4 linked regions of the Homo sapiens genome follow. The protein of the gene in region 2 interacts with the protein of the main gene of each other region in a pairwise test. Each region holds a gene or a part of one and is shown on either strand. Other genes may lie near its edges.

What was found.
Region 1: the proteins of ELOVL4 (region 2) and BNIP3 interact in binary tests that used the Homo sapiens proteins (3 or more experiments, as listed by UniProt).
Region 3: the proteins of ELOVL4 (region 2) and LY6D interact in binary tests that used the Homo sapiens proteins (3 or more experiments, as listed by UniProt).
Region 4: the proteins of ELOVL4 (region 2) and VAMP4 interact in binary tests that used the Homo sapiens proteins (3 or more experiments, as listed by UniProt).

What each region holds. Positions count from the first base shown.
Region 1 is NC_000010.11:131,967,153-131,971,936, forward strand, and holds the end of BNIP3 (BCL2/adenovirus E1B 19 kDa protein-interacting protein 3), read right to left. Parts: intron 4,382-4,784; exon of another isoform or gene 3,819-4,381; coding exon 3,712-3,818; exon of another isoform or gene 3,636-3,711; coding exon 3,486-3,635; exon of another isoform or gene 2,503-3,485; coding exon of another isoform or gene 2,475-2,502; intron 1,418-2,474; coding exon 1,372-1,417; 3' UTR 532-1,371; downstream 1-531. UniProt on the Homo sapiens protein: Apoptosis-inducing protein that can overcome BCL2 suppression. May play a role in repartitioning calcium between the two major intracellular calcium stores in association with BCL2.
Region 2 is NC_000006.12:79,937,540-79,944,583, forward strand, and holds part of ELOVL4 (very long chain fatty acid elongase 4), read right to left. Parts: intron 1-7,044. UniProt on the Homo sapiens protein: Catalyzes the first and rate-limiting reaction of the four reactions that constitute the long-chain fatty acids elongation cycle.
Region 3 is NC_000008.11:142,784,342-142,790,546, forward strand, and holds LY6D (lymphocyte antigen 6D precursor), read right to left. Parts: upstream 2,199-6,205; 5' UTR 2,176-2,198; coding exon 2,124-2,175; intron 1,347-2,123; coding exon 1,248-1,346; intron 1,116-1,247; coding exon 880-1,115; 3' UTR 541-879; downstream 1-540. UniProt on the Homo sapiens protein: May act as a specification marker at earliest stage specification of lymphocytes between B- and T-cell development. Marks the earliest stage of B-cell specification.
Region 4 is NC_000001.11:171,699,634-171,704,083, reverse strand, and holds the end of VAMP4 (vesicle-associated membrane protein 4), read left to right. Parts: 3' UTR 1-3,924; downstream 3,925-4,450. UniProt on the Homo sapiens protein: Involved in the pathway that functions to remove an inhibitor (probably synaptotagmin-4) of calcium-triggered exocytosis during the maturation of secretory granules.

The sequences.
Region 1 (4,784 bases), on a different chromosome or scaffold from region 2:
GCGTGAGCCACTGTGCCCGGCCATACAGGTGGTTTCACTCAGAGTTCAGCCATTGTCATCTGTGAGGGGGACACGTGGTTGGCTTTGTTGTGTGCTAACTTTGATGGTGACCAGGGGGTTCACTGAGCTCTGTAAGGTGCTGAAACTCCACTGATGTTTGTGATGAAAGACAAACAGCAAACATATTTGCTCTAAAACAAAAACGGAATTCCCTTGACCATCGTGCTTCGATGATCTCAGACTATTCTGAAGTTAAATTATATAAAGGAATTCTGATGTCATGCCATCCACATTCTCCAAATGTAAGACTGAGAGATGACTGCTTCCAAGGTAGCATCAACAAAGATTTTTACAAATGAAAACGTTAGATTTAACACCCGAATTAAGCGTGGAAAGGTGAAACATCAAGGCGGCAGGCAGCCTTTCTAAAAAGTTTGCTGTAGGAAAGATAATGTCAAAATAGGGACCAGTCCTGGTTTCATTAAGAAGCTATCATGACGTCTGATTTTAAACCATATGTAAATACAGTAATCTGAAGGATTTGGCAAAGATTTATTTTTTTTTCCATTTCCAGTTTTTTAAAGTAGACACAGATTTGCTTAGAATAAAGCTGATTTTAAAAGCACACAAAAGTTGAACACAAAGGAGAGGATTAAATTCACCAATGCAGAGTGATAAAGAGGAAAAGATACTGAGTAGGTGCCTTCAGCAGAAAACTGATCATCCAGGGTGATCACCTAATAATCGGAGACTTAATTCCTTATAATGCAAAAGCAAGAAGAGTTTAGTGTACGAACTGTACAGCTGAGTTTGTAGCTCTATCTTGGTTTCTGTTGATTATGAACAATTAGCATAGTTATATATAATCTTTCTTTAGTAGACAACCTGCATCCATTTAAATTAAATAATACTTTCTACAATAGTGTGATATATAAGGCCACAATATTTATTTTGGACAAACCCCTTAAAGTAGCGATTTTATTATCAATGTTATTCATTCTTTTGAAATATAAAGTACTTCAGCTGAATTAAGGTTGCAGATAATTTTTAAAATACAACACACATCATGACTAGTATATTAAAATTATTTATATTCAGATATTTATATCTAATATCAAATGAAAATTTACTACCAAATTTTCACAGTAGACATTAATCAGTCTGACATGCTTATTGATCCCATAGGTGTAATTATAGATCAACATGATTTTAGTGTCTATTCTTTTATTTTACTAAATTAGGAACGCAGCATTTACAGAACAAATAAACACAAGTGACGTGGCCACCCCAGGATCTAACAGCTCTTCAGTGAGCTATGTTGCAAGCTCAGAAGTAATCCACTAACGAACCAAGTCAGACTCCAGTTCTTCATCAAAAGGTGCTGGTGGAGGTTGTCAGACGCCTTCCAATATAGATCCTTCACAGAAAAATTATCAGTAGTTAATGTATCTTGTGATTCACAGGAGACTGTGTTACAGCTGAAACAGGGTAGCTCACTGTGGTTAGAGCTTATGCAAGGGGACTGGTGATTTTATACCCATTATAAAAATTTTGTAATGAATCTATCTGTGATCTTTTATCTAGTGTTTTATCAATATGTATTTTGTATTAATTAACTTAGAAAACATCAGATCGTATTCTTACATAGAAGGATCACCAAACCGAATGCTGTTTCCACACAGAAAGCTTCTGCTTTGTTCCAACTCAGTGCTGGGGGAAGTCACCTACCAGGGCAAGATGGTGTTGCTAGTTCATCACCACCAGCCTCACCAAAGCCAACTGCTTAAAAATGAAGCCCCTGCCCTCATGTGGTTTAAGTTTGGTAGTGGGAGAGATGTCCCAAACTAAAGATGCAGGAGTGTCAGAAAAGGCTTTTCGGCAATAGAGAGGCTCGCTCCAGCTGACCAGCGGGCATCACTCCCGGAGGGAGGAGGATGGGTCTCCAGGAAAGGGCAGAATCGGAAGCCTGGCTGGCCTGGCCTGTGGGCGGTGGTGTGGTGGGCACTGTGAGCGCAGACAGTGCTGCAGCAGCTTTCGGGGCAGATTTTATCGTGTGGTTCTGAAAAGCAGCTGAGGGGGTGTGGGTCGCCAGTGGCAGCATCAGGCTCTGAAAACCCGGGCAGGACGAAGGACAGTAGCTGGGAAGTAGTGGCTGCAGAAATCCATCCTGAAACGAAGGGCTTAAACCTTGTATTTAAAATGAGGATCCCGAGGCCTTGCCCCCAGAGTCTGCTTGACAGTTCTGGAAAAGGCTCCAGAAAGCAAACTGCCTGGTGATGCTGATGCAGTCTGTAGGTCTGACTCCCAAAAGCACCAGCAGAAATGAAGGTGACGGGTTATGGGGGGGACGTGAGAATGTGCCCAAGAGCTAGGAGAAAGCCACGCACACGGGAGGGCGAGGTGGAGACACGGGCAGCGCTCAGGTCCCGGCCCAGGAAACTCAGTGGCTTTTATCCCGTTTCCTTCAACCCCAGATGTGAGCCCTCTGGCCAACCTACCTAACCCACCTGCCCCCAGTGGCATTCCGGTCTTTCCAGTCTGTCCAACACACGGCAGCCACAGAACACTGTCTGCACGCCAGGACTAGAGCCCTCCTCCCCGCTGAGAGGCTGGGACCAGCCCGAGGAGGAGCCGTTTTGGCTTCCCGCTCTGGCTCTTCACCACCGCTGCGGCGAACGCTCTTCAGAACCCACAGCGGCGCCTGCCTGGTCTCTGTGTTTTCTGCAGGGTGAGTGAGTATAAGCAGCCAGGAAAGGCCAGGCGCGGTGGCTCACGCCTGTAATCCCAGCACTTTGGAGGCCGAGGTGAGCCATCCCTTGAGTTCGAGATCAGCCTGGGCAACGTGGCGAAGCCCCGTCTCTATTAAAAATACAAAAATTAGCCAGGCCTGGTGGTGGGCACCTGTAATCCCAGCTACCCAGGAGGCTGAGGCAGGAGAGTCGCTTGAACCCAGGAGGCAGAGGCTGCAGTGAGCCGAGATCACGCCCCTGCACTCAGCCTGGGCAACAAGAGCGAAACTCAAGCCAGTAAAGTCGGAGACTGCATTGGTTCCTTCATTGCTGAGAGTTACTAGAACAACAGTCCTGTCTGGAGGAAGTACAGCAGGTAACTGAGACCCTCCACCTACAGCAGAGCTGGGTGCATTCCCGCCACAGTACTACACAGAAATGAGACTGCTTTCACCTACACACAGGACAAAGAGGTCAGACCTAAGAAGCCCTGCTTTGACTCCGTTTATATTCAGTGAGCAACAGGCAGACTCGTCAGGCCAGACAGCAGCACCACAGGGCGCCTGTGCTGGGGCCTTTGGGGGCTGCAGGCTGGTGGTTTCTGGACCTGAACAGTGACTACGTGGGTGTTTGTGAAAATGCACCAAGCTGTAACTGATGATCTGGACTTCAGGAAACAGGTTACGAATAAATCACTGCAACCCAGAATCGCCCCACGACATGCCATGACAGGAGTCACACAGTCACATCACCTACCCCAATCCGATGGCCAGCAAATGAGAGAGCAGCAGAGATGGAAGGAAAACTTTCAGAAATTCTGCAGAGAATATGCCCCCTTTCTTCATGACGCTCGTGTTCCTCATGCTGAGGGTGGCCGTGCGCTTCGGGTGTTTAAAGAGGAACTCCCTGAGGCGGGAAGAAACGTGTCAGCTGATGTGTCCTCTGTCAAGGGGTGCCCCCGTGACACTGAGAACACACTCACTTGGGGGGAATATTTTCCGGCCGACTTGACCAATCCCATATCCAATCTGAGTTTTTCTTCAAGATGCTTTCAACTTCTTTCCTTCTTTCAATATCATCTTCCTCAGACTAAGATAAAGTCAATGTTAAAGGCAGATCAGTGTACCACACGTGACACGGGAAAGCACCCAGCTCCCACCCGAGCTTCAGATCCGCAGGCTCAATTCAAGAGCCCAGAGGCACATGTCAGTGCCTCGGACCGTGGTCCAAGGGGAGTCCTGGGGCTGGGGGCCTTCCCCGGGCCGCGCCGCACTCCCGGCTCACAGCACGCTCGCCGCCTCCAGGGACAGATCACCTCTGGGGGAGCCCCACTCAGGGCGTAAATACATTTGGTTCACTGTGAGATTCTGGGGGTACTGACAGCGGCAAACACTGTCCTAGGGAAGTCACGTGACATGAGGGCAAAGATGGTGACGGCAGCACTGGTTATAAGAAAAGAAAATGAAAACAGCCGAAAACGGCTCAAAACAGGGACATGACGAAGGAAGGGACACTGTATAGTGAGCAGGTTTACAAGATGCTTCCGGGATAAGCAGGAGGGAAAAGGCAGAAATGTCCACATAACCACAGCTGCGGCCAAATCCTCAGAATTATATAACAGCACGAAACATTAAAGAGGATTTTAAATCTGAGAGTCTAAGTGTTTTTCTCTACTTTTTTGCATTTTCAAAATTCTGTACCTGAACATCTAATTCCTTTTAAAACTAGGGGAAGTTTTGTGTAAAACAGTGAAAACGGCAAGACCCTGTCTCAAAAAAAAAGAAATAAAATTGAAAATACTCAAGAATATAGCTCCCCAAACCCACCAAACATCTGGGTACACCCAAGCTGGGTACAGCCCCAAGTGCCCAGGAGCAGGCCGCACGCCCTGGATGCACCCACACACCCACAGCCAGGGCTCCTGGGGCTCCCGAAATCATGCTGCCCCTCGGAGTGGGGCCAGGGGATGTCCCTGAGAAAGCCTGGGTAACAGGGACTCCTTGTTTCCTTGGTGAAGAAAGCCTTGAGGGAAGCGCTAGCACGGAAGGGTCAGCT
Region 2 (7,044 bases):
TAACGGTACCGAGCCCAATGGAATATGAGGACTAAATGTGATAATACATATAAAACACTGGACACAGTGCCTGACACTTAGTAAGCATCCAATAAATGTTCACTATTATTACTGGGCAATAAAATGGTATTTATTGAATAAATAAGTAGGCTATGTTGCATTATAAAAAGGTCACTGTTGGGAAGGAGAAAGATCTTGATCCTATTCCAACTCTGTTACTTTCTAGCTATGTAGCTTTGAGTCTATTTCTTCATCTATAGATGGTTAAATAATATCTAACTTATAGAGATGATCTGAAAATTAAATATAAGGTGTATCAAATACAGTACTACAGCATCTTAAAATGGTCCTATACTAAATGCTCAATAAATGGTAGTGAGTTTCATCATGTGCAGACGATATCTGGTTTCAAATTCCTGACCTCAATGATCCACCCGCCTCGGCCTCCCAAAGTGCTGGGATTACAGGCGTGAGCCACCATGCCCAAGTGCAGGTGATGTCCAAATTCATGACTTCAGAAAATGGCCTATTCATAAAAGCCAGTTCATAAGGGAAAAGGAGACAATTTCAAGGGAGAAAATATATCTCGAGAGAGAGAGCTGAAGAATGTTGCCTCGTTTCCTGGAAGCCAAGATCAGAATACAAGTAGTTTCCTTCTCTCCTTGTTTCCAATTTTGCTGGGCTTCTCAGAAAAAGTAGTCATAAAACTTAATCTGGGAGTTCCAAGTTCAACCATCCACCCAATGCTGCCAATGAACTCAAAGCTTTAAGAAAATTGAAATGGTGTTTCCCTTTAGCAAAAAAGATGGAAGATACCATTAGAGTGTGTGAGTGTGTGAGTTAATGGGAACTTTAGCCAAAATCTTCCCTTGACTCTAACAGTTCTATAAGTTGAATAGCCACTGGGTAAAATACGGTTAGTCCTGAATGAATTTCATTATCCTTTCACTAACAAGTTTCTAGCTCTTGTATTATGCAATTTGGCAAATACTTTCATAATTCACTTTGAATACACTTTTTTTAAACAATCCTACACCGTCATATGGAAGTTAACCATCTTCTCAGGCTAAATATCGCATTTTGTATTCTACATATATTCACATATTTGTGTATGTATATAGTATATGAATAAATATCACTTTGTAGTTTAATCTCATACACCAGCCTTTATAGCACCTTTGAATATTTAGATGTCTTTCTTTAGATGATCTTTGGTAATATTATGACTTTGTTCAGATTTAGTATTCTAAACAGTGATACTCTGTAGATAACAATAAAAGAAAAGGTAAAATAAAAGAGAAACACAGATTACAGGCCTGATTATTTCTTTCTTGCTTGGCTAGTGTGACGGGAAGACAAGAGCACTGGGCTAGGGACAAAACAACCCATGCACATTCATTTGCACTATAGTGACCACCTACAAAAGTTACGTAACTTCTGTAAATCTCAAAGACTTCTAAATATATGGAAAAAATGCCTTCAAGGCCTATCTCCCAGAGTTATTGTGAAGTTGTTTGTAAAACCATAAAGCAAAATACAAAGCTAAAGTTTTCTTTCTTGTTATTTGCTACTTTCTAGCCACTCGGATTTTTTTTAAGCCAACAGCTATATAGTCTCTTTATAAAGTCATTTTACTTTAAATTGAAAAAATAAAGAAGAATTGACTGTTTTACCATTGAGCACTAAAGAGATCATTTCTACAGGTGCTAATGTATTAATTTTATAATATATGAAATTCTTGCATTGCGGTAAAAAGAAAAGCACATAACATAAAATATACCATCTTAATCATTTTTAAGTGTACAGTCCAGTATCATTAAGCATATCCACATTGTTGTGACTCTCTGGAACTTTTCTATCTTGAAAAACTGAAACTCTATACCTATTAAACAAGTCATCAGTTCTCCTTCTCCCCAGGCCCTAGCAAACATCTTTCTACTTTCTGTTTCTATTAATTTGACTACTTTATTTATTTATTTATTTATTTATTTATTTATTTATTGGGCCAGGATCTTACTCTGTCACCCAGGCTGGAGTGCAGTGGCACAATTATGGTTCACTGAAGCCTTCACCTCCCAGGTTCAAGTGATCCTTCTCCCTCAGCCTTCTCAATAGCTGAGACTAGAGGCATATGGCACCAGGCCTGGCTAATTTTTAATATTTTTTTGTTGCTCATGTTGGTCTTGAACTCCTGGGCTCAAGTGATCCTTGAGCCTCCACCTCCCAAAGTGCTAGCATTATAGGCATGAGCCACTGGGCCCAGCCCGAATTTGACTACAGTAGAGGGTCCATATAAGTGGAACCATAATGCCACATACATAATTATCTTTTTGTGACTAGACTATTTCACTTAGTAACAAGGTTCATCTATGTTGTAGCACATGTCAGAATTTCTTTCCTTTTTAAGACTGAATAATATTCCATTGTATGTATATACCACGTTGCGTTTATCCATTTATCCAACACTGGACATCTGGGTCGTTTCCACCTCTTAACTACTGTGAATAATGCTGCTATGTACGTGTGTGAAAAAATATATAAAATTAGTTAAAAACACACATCTGTGCTCAAGTTTTTGTTTGATAAGTGAATAAAAATGAAAACAGAAAAGCTTGTTTCTTGGAATTCTGCAGTTCAAAATCACAAATGCTTTTATGTGATTATACCTGACAGTGAGTAACTGATTTCCTCAGTGGACTAATGCATTTGTCTTTCAAATTCCAAAAATTTTACTCTAATACAATATAATCATAAATAAAACATCATTCTAAGGTATTTGTTTACAAATGGTAATATTTCATGAAGAAAAATATATGGCAAAAGATTTTAAAAATTTGTATTTTGATTAGTTAAGGAACATACTTATACCAAAACCATTTAGTTTCTTTTGTTTTCTCTTCTGTAAGACCTACACATTTTTATCAATTTTACAAAAATCTTAAGCCATACTTCCAAACTTAAGTAAAAAATGCTCATATATAAAGTGTTTATAATAGAAAATCATTTGTAATGATGTATGTTAAAATTTCACATTTTCTATTGGAAAAATATGAAGACTGAGTTTAGACTGATATCTAGGCTGCTGTTTTAGGAGATGTTATAAGGATTCAATAAACTAAGCCTTAAAGGTTATGTAGTTCAACCCTCTCACAGCACAGGTAGAAATAAGAGACCCAAAGAGTCATGAATAACTTGCCTAAAACGACATAATATGCCATCCTCAAAAGCTGAGTATCACAAAATAAATGTAATATATAATTGAGATAATTTTATTCTTTAATATTATTGCTACTGTTTTCGATAAAATAGTTGGCTCTTGGTTATTCAAGGAATCCAGATAATTAAACAGGTATAGTGTTACAGCAACAAAAGCAATGTTATTTCAAAACAGACGCTTAAATATCTGTATACTTTTGTTGCTCTATTCCTCTACCTATTTCTTATAAAGCAAATTTTAAAAAGTAAAAAGAACTAAATAAGAATCTGTTATTTGTACTATTTAGGCAGTGTTGATAACAGTTTTGCTGGAAAAAAATTTTATTTACTATAAAGAATGAGGTTTCTGAATCCCTGATAAATGTATATTTATTTGAAATTGCTTTACCTATTCCAAGAATAAAGAAAGTGATATCTATATCTAGACTTTTAGAGTCAGGTAGGACCTTACAGATTACCTAATTTAACCCTCTTAATTTACAGAGAACAATGCTGAGAATTGGGAAGGCAAAGGAACTTGTCCAAACTCTCATAGCAAATCAGCAGCAGACCAGGACTAAAACCTAGGTCATCTAAATCCCAGTCCAGAATTCTTCCCATTCACTATACCACACTGCCCTCCTCACTTCCACACAAGGCAATGCTTCTGCACAGACAATGAAGAGAACAATCATATCTGATTTTATATGTCTTGGAATCTTCATTTTTTATCTGTTTTGTGCTTCTAAATGACTTAATGGCCTGATTTACTCATTAAATTTAGTGAACGGCAACTGAATTAATGACCAACTCATAAAAAATATCATTCTTTTAAAGAACTCTCTGGCCGGGCACAGTGGGTCGTGCCTGTAATCCCAGCACTTTGTGGGGCTGAGGTGGGCAGATCACATGACACCAGGAGTTTAAGAGCAGCCAGGGCAACATGGTGAAATCCCCACTCTATGAAAAACAAAAACAAAAACCTTCTGTAATTTAGTGTGGTCTAAAGCCTTATTCATGTTTAGCAACCACAATATATCATGATTCAAAATTATGCTAGATTAAGAGGGTCATCTCCTGATACATATCATATCAACAAATATATGTGATAATCTCTGATGTTGGAGAGAAAGATACAAAGGAGTGAAGTGGTAAATAATAACGAAAGTTTAAACAGTTTGACACTAGGGTCATAGAAGGAATGGCACAGGAAATACGTGAGTAATTACTAAAGACAATGAGCTCCTGTGAGACAACAACTTGCTCCAGGGTACCATAAACAAGAAAGGCTTTGCAAAGGAGGACTATTGTACTGGGTTCTGGTAAAAGGTATCTGGAGAGGTAAACAGGGAAAAGGTGGGTAAAGGCAAGGGGAATGGTGGGATGAGAAACATAAAGGTGGACATGTACACATTTTACTTAAGGGTCAGTGAGTTATCCCAGTTGGCTAGAGCTGCAGGTCTTTGGGCAGGGGAATACTGAAGGATCAAGCGAGAAAGTTAATGTGGACCTTGGCTTTAAAAGGCCATGTGTTTCCTCCCATCTCCTTTCTGAAATCCAAACCCACATGATTTTAAAATATATATTCTAATAGAAAATAAAACAATAGTACCTTCGTTTGTTAACAGGCAAAATGTCCTGATAATGAAGACGAAAAAAACATCTAAAGTGAAAAAAGATAGACTGTTACACTACTCATTTCGGTGTGCTAATATATGCCTAATTCAGAATAATAAGTGGCTTAACAAATGAAAATACTTACGTTAATAATGTTAAAGCATTTACAGGTGACATTATCCACAGGACTTGAGCAAAAAAATAAGAAAACAAATTGAATTTTTAAAGGATGACCAAGTGCTCTGTGGCTCTTAAGTTTACAAAAGTGCCATCTGATATAATTATCTGCATAATTCTTAAAACTTTGTCTTCCTAAGCCAAAGAATCTAAGTTAAAATAGTTAAAACTGTGTCCTGACACCCGTTTTAGAACCTGCATTGTTTACCCTCCTGGAATTCCATCTGCAATAGGATGTTTTACTTTATGCTATCATTGGGGAATGGATAAGAGCATTAGCTATTAAAGTCTAGCAGTCTACCACCAAAAATCAAACTGTGGTGAAGGAAAAGACAATAAAAACCAAACCAAAACAAAAAACCATAAAATGGCATGGACATCCCAGAGGCTTCAAGGAGCTTATGAGTAAAGGATAATTAGGACGTCACTGAAAACAGTGACCAAGGGAGATCCCATGTTAGGAGCTGGTGATGTTTCTTTCTTTCTTTTTTTTTTTTAATTAGCTGCCTACAACTTGGAATCAGAATGTCTTTTCTCAAAGAAACATTCAAAGAAAACTGCATTACCAGGCTTAGCCAAACAAATAAACCTATTTTAGATAATAACATAGATGAAAAACTAAACATTAACTGTGACGAATAATAAAATTAATGTAAGCATACTGTACAATACTTAAAATACATGCTCCTCTGGGACCTAGCAATCCCTAAGACAAACCTGCTTTTACTTCAGCTTATTTGAGCTGAGTTAAACATCCCCTCCCACTAGCCCCCAGCTTCATCAAACCTGGATGACTCACTGGCCTGACCCTTAAGCACCTTCCCAGTTTCCATGGTTTTCAGTCAAGCTGTTCCCCTTGCCTTTGACACCTTTTGCCCTAGTATGCCTCTCCAAATACTCTGACAGTACTCACATCAACTCCTCATTCAAGGGTAGAGGGAAGTAAACTGTGGTGAAACAGCTAAAATATTCTAAAAACAACTGTATATTCCTTTCACTTAGGAGAAGTAGAGATGAGAAGAGCAGGGAAGGACTTTTCTGATCTTCCCTAGGCCCCAGCTAGTCCTGAGTCTGACAGATCACACTGCCTCCAGACCATGATATCAAGGAAAGGGGAATGACAGTGACCCCCTAGACTTTGCAAGATGCATGAGGGCAGTGACCAAGTGTCCTCCTTTCCTTTCCAGAGCCTAGAACTGTGCCTGTACATGGCAAGTAAATACGGAAAGAAATGGTATCATAAGCCTGGCTTCCACATTTCGTCATCCTACAGCTCTCCTCCCTCTTCCTGTACCACTCATCCCTTCTTTCTGACCCCTCCAAAGTTAATTCAAGGACCCAGCAAGTTATGTTCTAACTGCAACTACCAAGTAGACAATTTTTTTCACCAAAATGCAGGGTACTATATCTGCGAAAAGAGGGCCAATGCCAATCATTACCACCCCCAACCAACAGACAGCACCCATACCCTGTGAACAACAGCTATTTAGAAACAAATGGTCAGAAGATACATGGCCTCACAGGAGACACCTGGCTTTACCGTAAGCATCCTACTAACTCTCTAGGGTGTTTATATGCTAAATGTCAGGTATGCAAAAAAGCTATTAAACATTTATTAAAAGCATGAATAAATGAATAATGTAGATAAGTTGGGTATTCATAGATTGGGGAATATTTAGATTCATCAGTTTAAAAAATGTATATACAACTTTTATTAGATGTATACGTTGAGCCTAGGACTCCAATCCTAATAATTTAAATGTACTCATGAAGTGAAAGAATAGAAGAAAAAAACTAACATGATGACATGGAATACCTACTCTAATACTAACAACTAGTATAAAGTCCTACACCAGCCTATACTTTAACATAAACCAACGCTAATTTCCTCGTTCAAAATGTCTACAAATACAGAGAAATAAAAATTATTTTTGTTGTTTTTCTAAAAGTATAGCTCTTTCAAACTTTCAATTCCAATGTACAAAGTGTTAATACTGTAGTAAAAGTAACATTTTTGTTGTTAACATTATTATGGACCATATTTTGTATTTGCTA
Region 3 (6,205 bases), on a different chromosome or scaffold from region 2:
TCATACTCCCCGCCCAGTCTAGCTTCACCCTGGTGAGGTCTGGCCAAGGGGCTGCTGGGTTCCCATAGATAGGGTCCATGGGACTTTCCTGGATGGTGGCTGAACTTTCCCTGGGCAGCTGGACTTGCCTTGGCGATGGCTGTAGGTAGTCAGTGCCTACTTGGCTCCAAAGCTGGGGTTGGGCCTGGGGTGTCCCAAGCCGGCCTCTCTGGAGGCTCCTGAACCCCGGTCTCAGAGACATGACCCGGGGTGAAAGGCTGAGGGGTTCCTTCTCCCCTAGGTGCTATGTGTGGGAGGGGCCTGCGAGCCCTCTTACCCTGTGCTCCTACTCAGGCCTCACCCCAGGAGTGCCCTCCACCTCTGGGGCGGTGGGAGGCATCTGAGCAGCCTGCCCCTTCCAGGGTGGGGACGGACGGTGCCACCTCAGGCATCACCCCACGACTGGCCCCAGGGGACATGTGCTGGAGGCTCAGGGTACCTATGTGGCCTGATATCCGCCCCTCAGCTCCTCCGTCCCAGAATAGCACAGCCACAGCCACACTGGTTTAAATCATTTATCTCCATGTAGAGATTTGAGTACAAAAATAAACGGCAACAAAACAGAAGGAGTGTGAAATCCGGGGATCCACAGGGCTTCTGTCCTCCACCTTCCATGCAGCTGGGGGCTGCATCCTCTGTGGGGTGGCTTCATCCTCTGTGGGGTCTGTGGGGCCTGCTCCAAGTCATCAGCATTCCATGCCCACCTGGACCTGGTCCCAGACTTTCGGGGAAGCCCTCAGCCTGGGGCTCCTGGCACCCCCGTTGCGGCTGGGGAAGAGAGGTGTGGAATCCCCAGAGAAAGGGAAGGAAAGGCATGAGGGGCCTTCCCTGGGGGGAAGGTCACAGGCTGGGGGCTAAGATGACGGCCAGGAGGCTCAGGGCCAGCCCCAGGCTGAGGGCACTGTGGGCGAGGGCGGTGCGGGTGGGTGCAGCGTTGTGCAGCTTCTCATTGCACAGGTCCTCCTGGCAGCACTGGGTGGAGCTGGTGCCGCTGCTGACCTGGCCTTGCAGGGTGTAGCTGGGTGTGCACGACTCCGCACAGTCCTTCTTCACCAGATTCCCCCTCAGAGGCTCCACTGGGCACAGGTGAGTGTGGTCAGGCCAGGCAGCCACCTCTGCCCCCCACCTCCCCACAACCTTCCAGCCAACACCCACAACAGCCAGGGATGTCCCCCAGCCCCAGGGACACCTGGACAGATGCTACCCACCTGTGTTCGTGGTCTTGCAGAAGCGAGAGCTGGCCGGGCAGACCACAGAATGCTTGCAGTTGCTGGAGCTGGTGCACACGTGGCAGCGCAGGGTAAGGGCTGGCGGGGAGGGAGTCCGGCTCAGCGGGCCCAACAGAGGCCTCCTGGTGACTCAGCAGGGCCTGCTCCCCCACCTGCAGAGACCCCTCCTGGACAGAGGCCCTGCTGCCCTTGCCCTAGGCCCCCAAACCCGGGCTCTGGGTCCTGGCAGGGCATGTGCCCTGAGTGCAGCCTCAGGGGACATGTATTCCAGCCTGGGCCGGCTTGGAAGAGGTGTCCTGCCCTGCCCCTGTCTAGGGTGTGTTGCAAGCCTTTCCTCCAAGGTCTCAGGGAGCTCTGCGACTGCCAAGAGGACACTGGCTCTTGTCCCCACCCCAGGGGATGTCCCTGGAGGAGATGGCTATGTTTCTGAGGGCCTGACGGAGCTAAGGCCCCGGGGGCAGCCAGCTTGGCTGCTCTGAGCCTATGACAGGAAGGGCTTGGTGGCCTTTGGGCTGTCCTGGGCTGTGCTGGGGGAGACCTGGGGACCGGGAGGGGCTGGTGGCAGGGACTAGATGGCCGCTCTCCCAGTGAGAAGCATCTCAAGACAACCCCCTGCTCCACTCTCTCAGGGTCCGTGACTCCAGGAGTCAGTTCTAAGATCCTCAGATTCTGAAACATTGTAAATCTGACACTCGTTAAGATTCGGGCTCCATGTTGTTTTAAATTTGAAGAGTCTAGCACCCACAGTGTCGGGGTTCTCTGTGCCTAGATGTCGTCAGCTCCAGGCTCCTAGTATTTGGTGACCACACAGGCCACAGCCGCCCACCCGCCCGTCCCCTTGGCCCAGCCCCTCACCTGGCCCTGTAGCCACAGCCAGGGCTGCAAGGAGCAGCAATGCTGTCCTCATCTCTGATGTCGTCTGGGAGCAGTGCGGGCCCCTGCATTGCCAAGGCCTTATAGGCACGGGCTGGGCGGGGGTGGGCAGTCCGCCAGCCAGCGGCATTCTGCAGGGCTCTGTGCAAGCGTCAGCCCAGGACGGGCACCTGCCCCACCCTGCCTGGCCCACGCCCACCAGCCTGGCTGTCGCTGGGCGCTGCCCCTGCTGCCCCCCGCCAGGCAGAGGTCTGCCCTCCGCAACGGGGCCCAGTGGCCTCCTGGCCCTGCTGTTCCTGCTGCTGTGCCTCCATCTCTCCCACTTTCACTTCTCTGTCTCTGTGGGTCTTGTTCTCTCGCTGCCGTCCGTTCCTGGGTCACTTTGTCTCTGACCTGCCACCCGCTACCCCCCGCCCCCCACCCCCCACCATCCATCACCATCCTGTGTCTTTGTCCCTGCATTCCCCCCATAGTTCCCTCAATAGAGTTGCAGCCTGTGCCCGGTGCCCTGTGGGTGCCCGTGGGTGTCCAGGGCAGGGGAGGTAGGAAGGGCAGGTGCTGGTCCTACTCTCCTGGCTCTGGGCTCAGGGTTGCTGCCGGGGATGCAGAAGGTCCTTGAGCTGCAAGGGCTCGGGGTGGCTGTGGGCTGATGGGGTGTGTGAGGCAGAGGCAGAGGCAGAGGCCACTCCGAGGCAGGGAGGGCAGCTGGGGCAGCAGTGAGGTGAGCACTGGACAGAGTGAGGACTGTGAGGACCCGGCCCTCGAAGTTGCCTGGGGAGCCCTGTGGGCAGAAGGCCCGGGCTGTGGAGGCAGCAACTCCACCCTGCGTTGTGCAGGGAGAGACTGAGCCCTCCTGGTCTCCACCAGCCCTGCCTCCCGCCCTCCAGGGCCCCAGAAGCCCTCCCCGTGGGATTCCTTCCCCCACTCTCCAGGCCCCTCCTGCTACGTTGGGGGCAGCGCCATCCCGGCCACTTTGTAACTATTGCTCTAGGTGTCCCGGCTCCAGTCTCCCCAAAATCGTGAACTCTTTGGGGCTGGGCCCCAGCACCCAGGGCCTCAAAGCAGGTTCTTGGTCTGCTGCCCGTTGAGTGGAGGCCAGTCCCCGCCTTCACCCTCTTTATACTCACAGGAGGGACTTTCTTTCCCTGGAGACGGGGTCTCTGAGCACCCACCGCCTCGCGCAGGAGCCCACCTCTTGGGGCCCCCATCCACCTGCTCAGCCCAGCACGCTCTGCCGCTCGCCTGTGCTGGGCAGCACCCACCTGAGTGGTGTGGAGGGGCCCACAGACTTGCTTTGCCCCTGCCCTGGCTAGGCTGAAGGTGAGTGGGAGCCGGGGCACAGATGGAGGTCAGCCCTGGGCCCAGCCTCCTGCCGCCGCTGCCACGTGGCTGATGAACAGACAACAACAGGCCCAGGGCAGGGCAGGGCCGGTTCCGAGGAGGGTGGTCCTGGGCTGGGCTGAGGCTTTTGGGAGCACCGTGGGTACTGGGGCCAGTCAGGCCTGGGCTTGAGACAGACCCTCTGGCCCTTCCTCCCGGCATCTCTCCCTTGCTGAGCCCCACGTCTCAGATGCCGGGGATCCCAGCAAATGTCTCCTGAGAATGCTCCTGGCCGGGCTCTCCCTGACACAGTGCCGGGGCCTGGAGGATCCACCTACAGGAGGGGTTGCCTGGTGGTGCCTTTAGAAACCAGGGTGCAGGCGGGAGCCCCCTGGGGCAGCCCCACATTTGCATCTGGTGCCTGGCCCTGGCTGGAGCTTGGTGGGGACGTGTGTAGTCTCACTTGCCAAGGCAGGTGACCCAAAGGTCCATGCCCCCACCCAGAGAGAGGAGGTTTCCTCCAGCTCCAAGGCCCTGTGTCCATGGGTCACAGTGAGAGGCATGGGCAGCTTGGGGGAAGGTGCTTCCAGGGGCCTTGGGAGGCAGAGCTCAGGGCTTGGTGGCGGGGTGATGACTCGGTGGGCATGGCAGGTGGGGAGGGTGACTCACTGTGGCCAGGGGCATGAGAGCTGCTGGAAAAACAGGTTTGGAATTCCTGCTGGGTCTGGTGGAGCTGGAGGGTCCGGGATGTCAGGTGGCCTGAGAGTGGGTTCTGAGTGTGGGGCCATGGGGGAGTGTGCTCCCCACACCTGGGGCTGGAGGAGGGCCCTGCACACCTGGCTCACCCCCGTGGGACACCTCAGGCATCACTGTGGCTGCGTCCCTGCCAGGCATGGGAGCCGGAGCGGGGTTCCAGTTTTGTGGGATGAGGGCCTCTGACCTGGCAGGGCTGCCCACGAGGATGAGCTGCCCATCCCAGGTGGTCCTAGCAAAAGCATGAACAGCAGCCCTACACAGTTCACTTTCAGGAGAAAGCGGGTGCTTCTGATGCCAGGAGCCCTTGGACAGCTGAGCTTCTGGGGACAGTGCAGTCAGGGAGGGTTTCTTGTAGGCAGTGACCTGACTAGAGCCTCAGAGCCAGGGATTGGAATGTGGAGAGGAGACACTGTGGCCCCTCATGTCAGTCCCTGCCCAGTGCTTGTTCACTGGTGAGGAAGTGAGGGCCAGAGAGCTCCAGGCACGTTCTGGGGCAGAACCTGGTGGGGTCTCAAGCACTTCTCACTATCACCGCCAGCCTTTCCCCCCTCCTCCCTCCTCTGTTCTCTAGGGCCTGGGCCCTCCCCCACTCCACCCCTCCCACTCAGCCCCTGGAGCTGGGGCCCTGGGCCTGGTTGGTACCATCAGGGTATTGGCAGCAGAAATGACACCTGGGAGAGGCGACGAAGGGGCCTGGGGCAGGGAAAACCACCGCCCCACCCCGTTAGCCTTGCCCCCTGCTCCCTGAACCAGGAAACCCGGCACGGGGACAAGCCCAGGCTTCTGTCTGGAGCCGAAGTTCCTTGCTCATGCCCCTTCCCCCACCTTCTGCCCCCTCTACCTTATGCTGGGCCCCTAGGAACACACAAGGGTGTGGTGGCTCAGAGAGGGAAGCGCCTGGCTTAGGGCGGCACAGCACCGTACTCCAGGCTTGCACCAGCCCAGCCCTGGGCCCTGTCCTGGCTGAATGGGTGCCTGGTGGACAAGGCGGGGCCCCGGGCTGGAGAAGCTGGCTGAGTGGGTGCCCGGTGGACAAGGCGGGGCCCTGGGCTGGAGGAGCTGGCTGAGTGGGTGCCTGGTGGACAAGTCAGGGCCCTGGCCTGGAGGAGCTGACTGAGTGGGTGCCCGGTGGACAAGGCGGGGCCGCGGGCTGGAGGAGCTGCCTGGGCTGGAGGAGCTGCCTGGGCTGGAGGAGCTGGGAAGCCCCAGGGCACAAGGAAGGGCTTCTTCACCCTCAGGCTGTTACCTGGGCAAGCCAGAATCCCAGCCACACCCCAGGGGTTCCAAAATGCATCCGTCTGCCTTGAGGCACTCCATTCATTCATTCATTCACTCACTCATTCATTCATTCATTCTTCAACATTTTATAAGGACCAACCATATGCAAGGCACTTTGGATATAATGGAAACCAGGAGAGAAGAGAGACAGGGCCCAGGTCCCAGGGCCTGCAGACCAGTAGGGAGTGGGAACAGACAATTGCTGCCTCTGTGGGACCCACAGCAGGGGTGTGATGATGTGGAGGGTGAGGATCTGGGGCTGAGAAGCCAAGGGAGGACCAACCTTGTTGGAGCTGTCTAAGCAGGGAAGGGTGTGTGGCCATTACCTGGTAAGCAGGTGGGTGTCGGGCAAGGGCATTGGGGCCCAGGTGCCAGGCCGCTTTTCTGTCTCTTTCCCCCGCAGGGGCAGGTGGCTGCCCCAAGCTGAGCGGCTGAGTGTGTGGTGTCTTTCTAGAGGCTGCCCTGATCCTCTCAGCCCCCTCACCTGCACAGATGGGGCCTCAGATGGACAGCAAGGGCCCGGCCTTGCCCGGCATCACCCAGCAAGCGGGAGCCACAGCTGGGCTGGGCCTCTGGGCCTGGGCTCTTCCCTCACACCTGGCCTCCCCACTCCTCTTTCTAGTGCCGGAGTCACCTTTACACATAGCACCACAATCTCAGGCAAAGTCTCTTTCACCTGCTTCCCAGGGCCAAGCCTGGCCCTGCCCTAG
Region 4 (4,450 bases), on a different chromosome or scaffold from region 2:
ATAACCATTCTGTCAATATTTGCAGAAATATAGTTCCTTTCATATTACAGTTGTTTTGCAAGCAATTTCCACATTTATAGGTGTAACAAAAGCTAAATGTTGTAAATGTTGTTGCCCTCAGGTATAACTAAAAACATTCCAGTAAATATATTTTTGACTGTGTAAGAGAATGTGTAGTAATTTTTTTGGCATTGGATTATGGAAATGGAAATTTTTAAACAGTGTGAAAAAACATGGTATGGCATCATAAAACTGGAGATAATAAAGTTATTGAAGAGTGTCATTGGAGTATTTGAAAATGACCAATATATAGCTGCCAGTCATGGTCCAGTCTGTTTTCTGTTAAACTCCAATAAAGAGAGACCAGTCAGTCCTAATGTGAGTAAATGAAATTTACAGGTAACTTACTTACTCCTTAATTTTATTTTAGTTAATAGCCTCTAACTTCCAACTATCTCATTTACCAAAAGTACAAAAAGTAGCAAAACCATCTATTAATACTTTGAATTTTATATCTTTGCATTTCCTGTTCATCCTTGAGGAGATGTATGTTGCACAATCAAATTTTGCATCAGCCAACAGTAATGAGTAGTAGAAAGTCAGGAACCTATGTGTATATATATATATATATATATATATATATATATATATATATATACACACAAACACACACACACACACACACACACACGCACACATATGATAATCAGTCAGTCGGTAACCAAATGCTAGAGAGTGACCATTAACCTAAGCCTGTTTTTATAATGAAAAAATGTGTTAACTTTAAAATATGCCAACCTCCTTGTGTCTTTTAAACAAGTCAGAGTGAAAATACATTGTCCCCTAAGGTGTGGGGAGAGGAAGCTTTATAATAAAATTAGTGATTCTGCAGAAACTTGTGCACTGGATATCTTGACAATATGAATATAAAACTCCCTAAATTAAAAATAGGGTTAATAGAAATTATCAGTATTTAAATAGGGAAAAATGATTTTATGTTTATTTTATTTAGGTTTTATTTCTTTGGTCATCTTAATGCAAAATGAATAAAGCATAGAATCTGGGTTTGGTGTTTTTTTGTCTGTTTTTAAAATTCTACAGGATTATTACTAGGAGGCAAAAAATGCTGTTTAGAATGGAAAAAATTTGAAGAGAGAAAGCAGACTGAGACACTCAAGACACCTGCAAGTTATCTAAGAAGATCTAAATAGAATTACTAAATTTTATAGTTTGCTTAGAGCATTTAGAAGGAGATAAAGGTCTTACATACTATAGTGTATATTGTCTTTGGTCTCTATGCTCTTTGTAAATGTCAATTAATATAAACAGCATCTGAACAGCTAATAAATCTTTTAAGTTAAGATACCCAGAAAAATGAGCATTTTTAGAATTTCAGTAGCTAATAATTCAGGAATGGAAATATTTTAACTGAATGGACAGAATCAGTCCTAACATTTGTATGTATGTCCTTTATTTGAATTGGAACTAGGCTCATAAGTGGTTAATTTTCCATTAGTTGATGTAGAAATCTGGTTTCTCCATAATATCTACAAGTGAAGATGAAGATTACTTCTCAAAAAGTATCCATATTTCCAGTGTTCCTTTTAATAAAATATGCCACTTTTAAATAAATAATTACAAAATGTAAAATTATAAAATTTTTAAATTTAAATAATAAGTAACAGTAAAATTTTTTGACAATATATATGTCACTGTCTTTGTAATTTAAACATATTGCTGCCTGGGATATGGGTAACAGAATTATCACTCATGGAACTTTGTAGTAGTGATGGCTTGGTTTGTAATTCATCATTTCATCTTTCTTGGTCTTGATTAATCCTGAAATCCTTAAAATGGCTGGCATGGTTATGACTTTATTGTGGTAACCTTGGAGATATAAGCCCTCTTACGATCAAAAACAGAAGAAAAAAATATATTGTTCAAACTGATGCCAGGCCTACCTTTATTCCCTCCCTTAATTACTTTTTTTCTCATTCAGCTCAGATCATCCTGCACTTGAAAAATGAAGTTTTACCACCATCAAAACTATCATTATTTAACAACAAGTGAAGATCAACAGAAAAATTCAAGTAGCTTTGCAAATACTAGTTGATACTCAGTGAAATCACGTCACTATTTTGATGCCTGAATCCATACCTTTGTGATTTATGTTTAATTACAGAAGCCTATTGCCTTGCAGCAATTTTGTTGTTATAATACTGATTAATTGGTTACTCCTTCTTATTATAACTCAGTAATACCTGTGGTCATTTGGTTCCTCTATCCTGACAAAGTTCACTGGAAATTGCCCTCAGATTTTATAAACTGGGGGATTTCTTAATTAGATAAAAGTTCATTACTGAAGATGGAATATTATATAAGATGGAGGAAGGGTAATTAATAGACATGAGATATAGAAATACTTTGTTAGCCCTGCTATAGATTGCCTATTGTAGTCTTTCTGTGCATTTCAATAGTCTGTATTAGGAAATTATAACTTCAGCACTTTTGATAGCAAAAATTGGCATCTTTCAATTCTGTATAGTATGTGACTATCCTGTAAATGATAATATGTGTACAGACTGAGAAGGCAGGAATATAAAGTAATTGAAATCTCTCATTGCCGGTATACTCTAAAACATGCTTGATGCCTTGTCAGCATCATTGCACACATTGACTCTGTATTTACATCTGTATATACACTATGATTAGAAAATATGCAAGAAATTGTTTTTCCATGTTAAGAACAAATGCCATTAGAAGATGTCCCCTTAATTGTATTGTCAGAGTATTACTATGTCAAGGATGACTGTTCTGTTAACCTAATTTTGTGTTTTCACATGGAAATGTGATTGGACTCCATTTTTCTGTGAGTTGAGAGTAAGAGCATAAGTCAGTTTGAAAGCATTTACAAGTTTGTTTTAGAATGTAGTAAGGGCTGAAAGGTGCTCTACTTCTTAACTTGTTTTTTCCATGTTGTAGACAAATGAAATTTGTCTAAATGCTTTTGTCTAAAAATGCATTTGTCTAAATGCTTTAGATTGATGTAGGGTTTAGATCCTCTTTAATACTTTGAGATAGTCTTATTCTGATTTTTTTTTTCTTCTGGAAACCAAGTAGAATTAGGGATGGGAATACAAATGCATTTATTCTGGCTTCTGTTTTATTCCAAGAAGCTTCTTGGAACAAATCAGTAGGAATTGAAAAGAAAGCATGACCAACCCAATTACAGGGGATAAATGTAAGCTTGTTAAAGTAAGCACCACACCATGTTTCTGTCTCCCCAGCACCCAGCACAGTGCTGTGAACCTTGGCAGATGCTAGATAAATGTGTGTTGAATGAATGTGCCTATGAAGCCACAAAGATGCCACATGTTAGTATATCAGTGAGAGGTGACTCCACAGTGCTCTCTGGAGAAGCAATATGAGTGACTGAAGAGTGGGGCCTTTTGCTTTTGCCTGGATATAGGGGTGCTCTTCTACTGTAATTGGGTGTGGAAAAACTCTGGCTTTATGGTATTCCATTAGGTTCTTTTCATTTAAAGTAGTCTTAAAATCAAAGTATCCAATATTTTAAAGCCACAAAGTAGATTACATAATTAGCAGAGATTTTAGTCAGTAAAATGTTAGAAATCAAACTATAAGAAAATTCAAGTCCTTTATTTTGTGTCTTGGGTATATGTCATTATTTTAAATTCCACACTCCCTTATTTAATCACTTTGGTAAGTGCCTTTGATGTTTTGAAATGTATAGTGGGAGATGAGCAAATGTAAATGTCATGTGCCCTGTTCCCTAGCTTCTCAATTCCTCATAACCATTTTTACCAGTGTTGCAAAGTTTAGACCTTTGTGTTAATATCAGAAGTGTATTTGTAGCCCCTCCATAGTGAACAATGAAATAAACTATTTCATAGAAAACAAAAATTAAGCACTTTGGCTTATTCAATATGTGTTACCTGTTGCCTTAACTTCAAAGCATAGCTTATTTAACAATAACATCTGGATAATCACCCCTGATTTAATCTATCCTATTTTCCCAATAAAGTGCATGGAGGAAAAATAAGAAAAAGAAAAGGCATTCTTTCACCAAAAATTATGCCTGATACTGACAAAATCTAAGAAGAATTTCTTAGTGATTTTTAACTCAGTAAAGCAATGTCTTTACCTCAGTCCACAGTGTCTGTAGGAGAGGAAGGCAGGCAGTTTTCTCTTAAACTTACATGTCCCAATCAGAAAACCTGATCCTGTCCCTCAGCTGCCTGGTGCTTTAGGCAACCAGAGTAATGTTCATTCTCTCTAGCCTCCCTCCACCCACACACTAAACTGTGTCTTTTTGTTTTTGTTTCTGAGACAGGATCTTGTTCTGTCTCCCAGGCTGAAGTGCAGTGGTGCGATCACAACTCACTGCAGTCTCAGACTGCTGGGCTCAAGCAATCCTTCCACCTCAGTT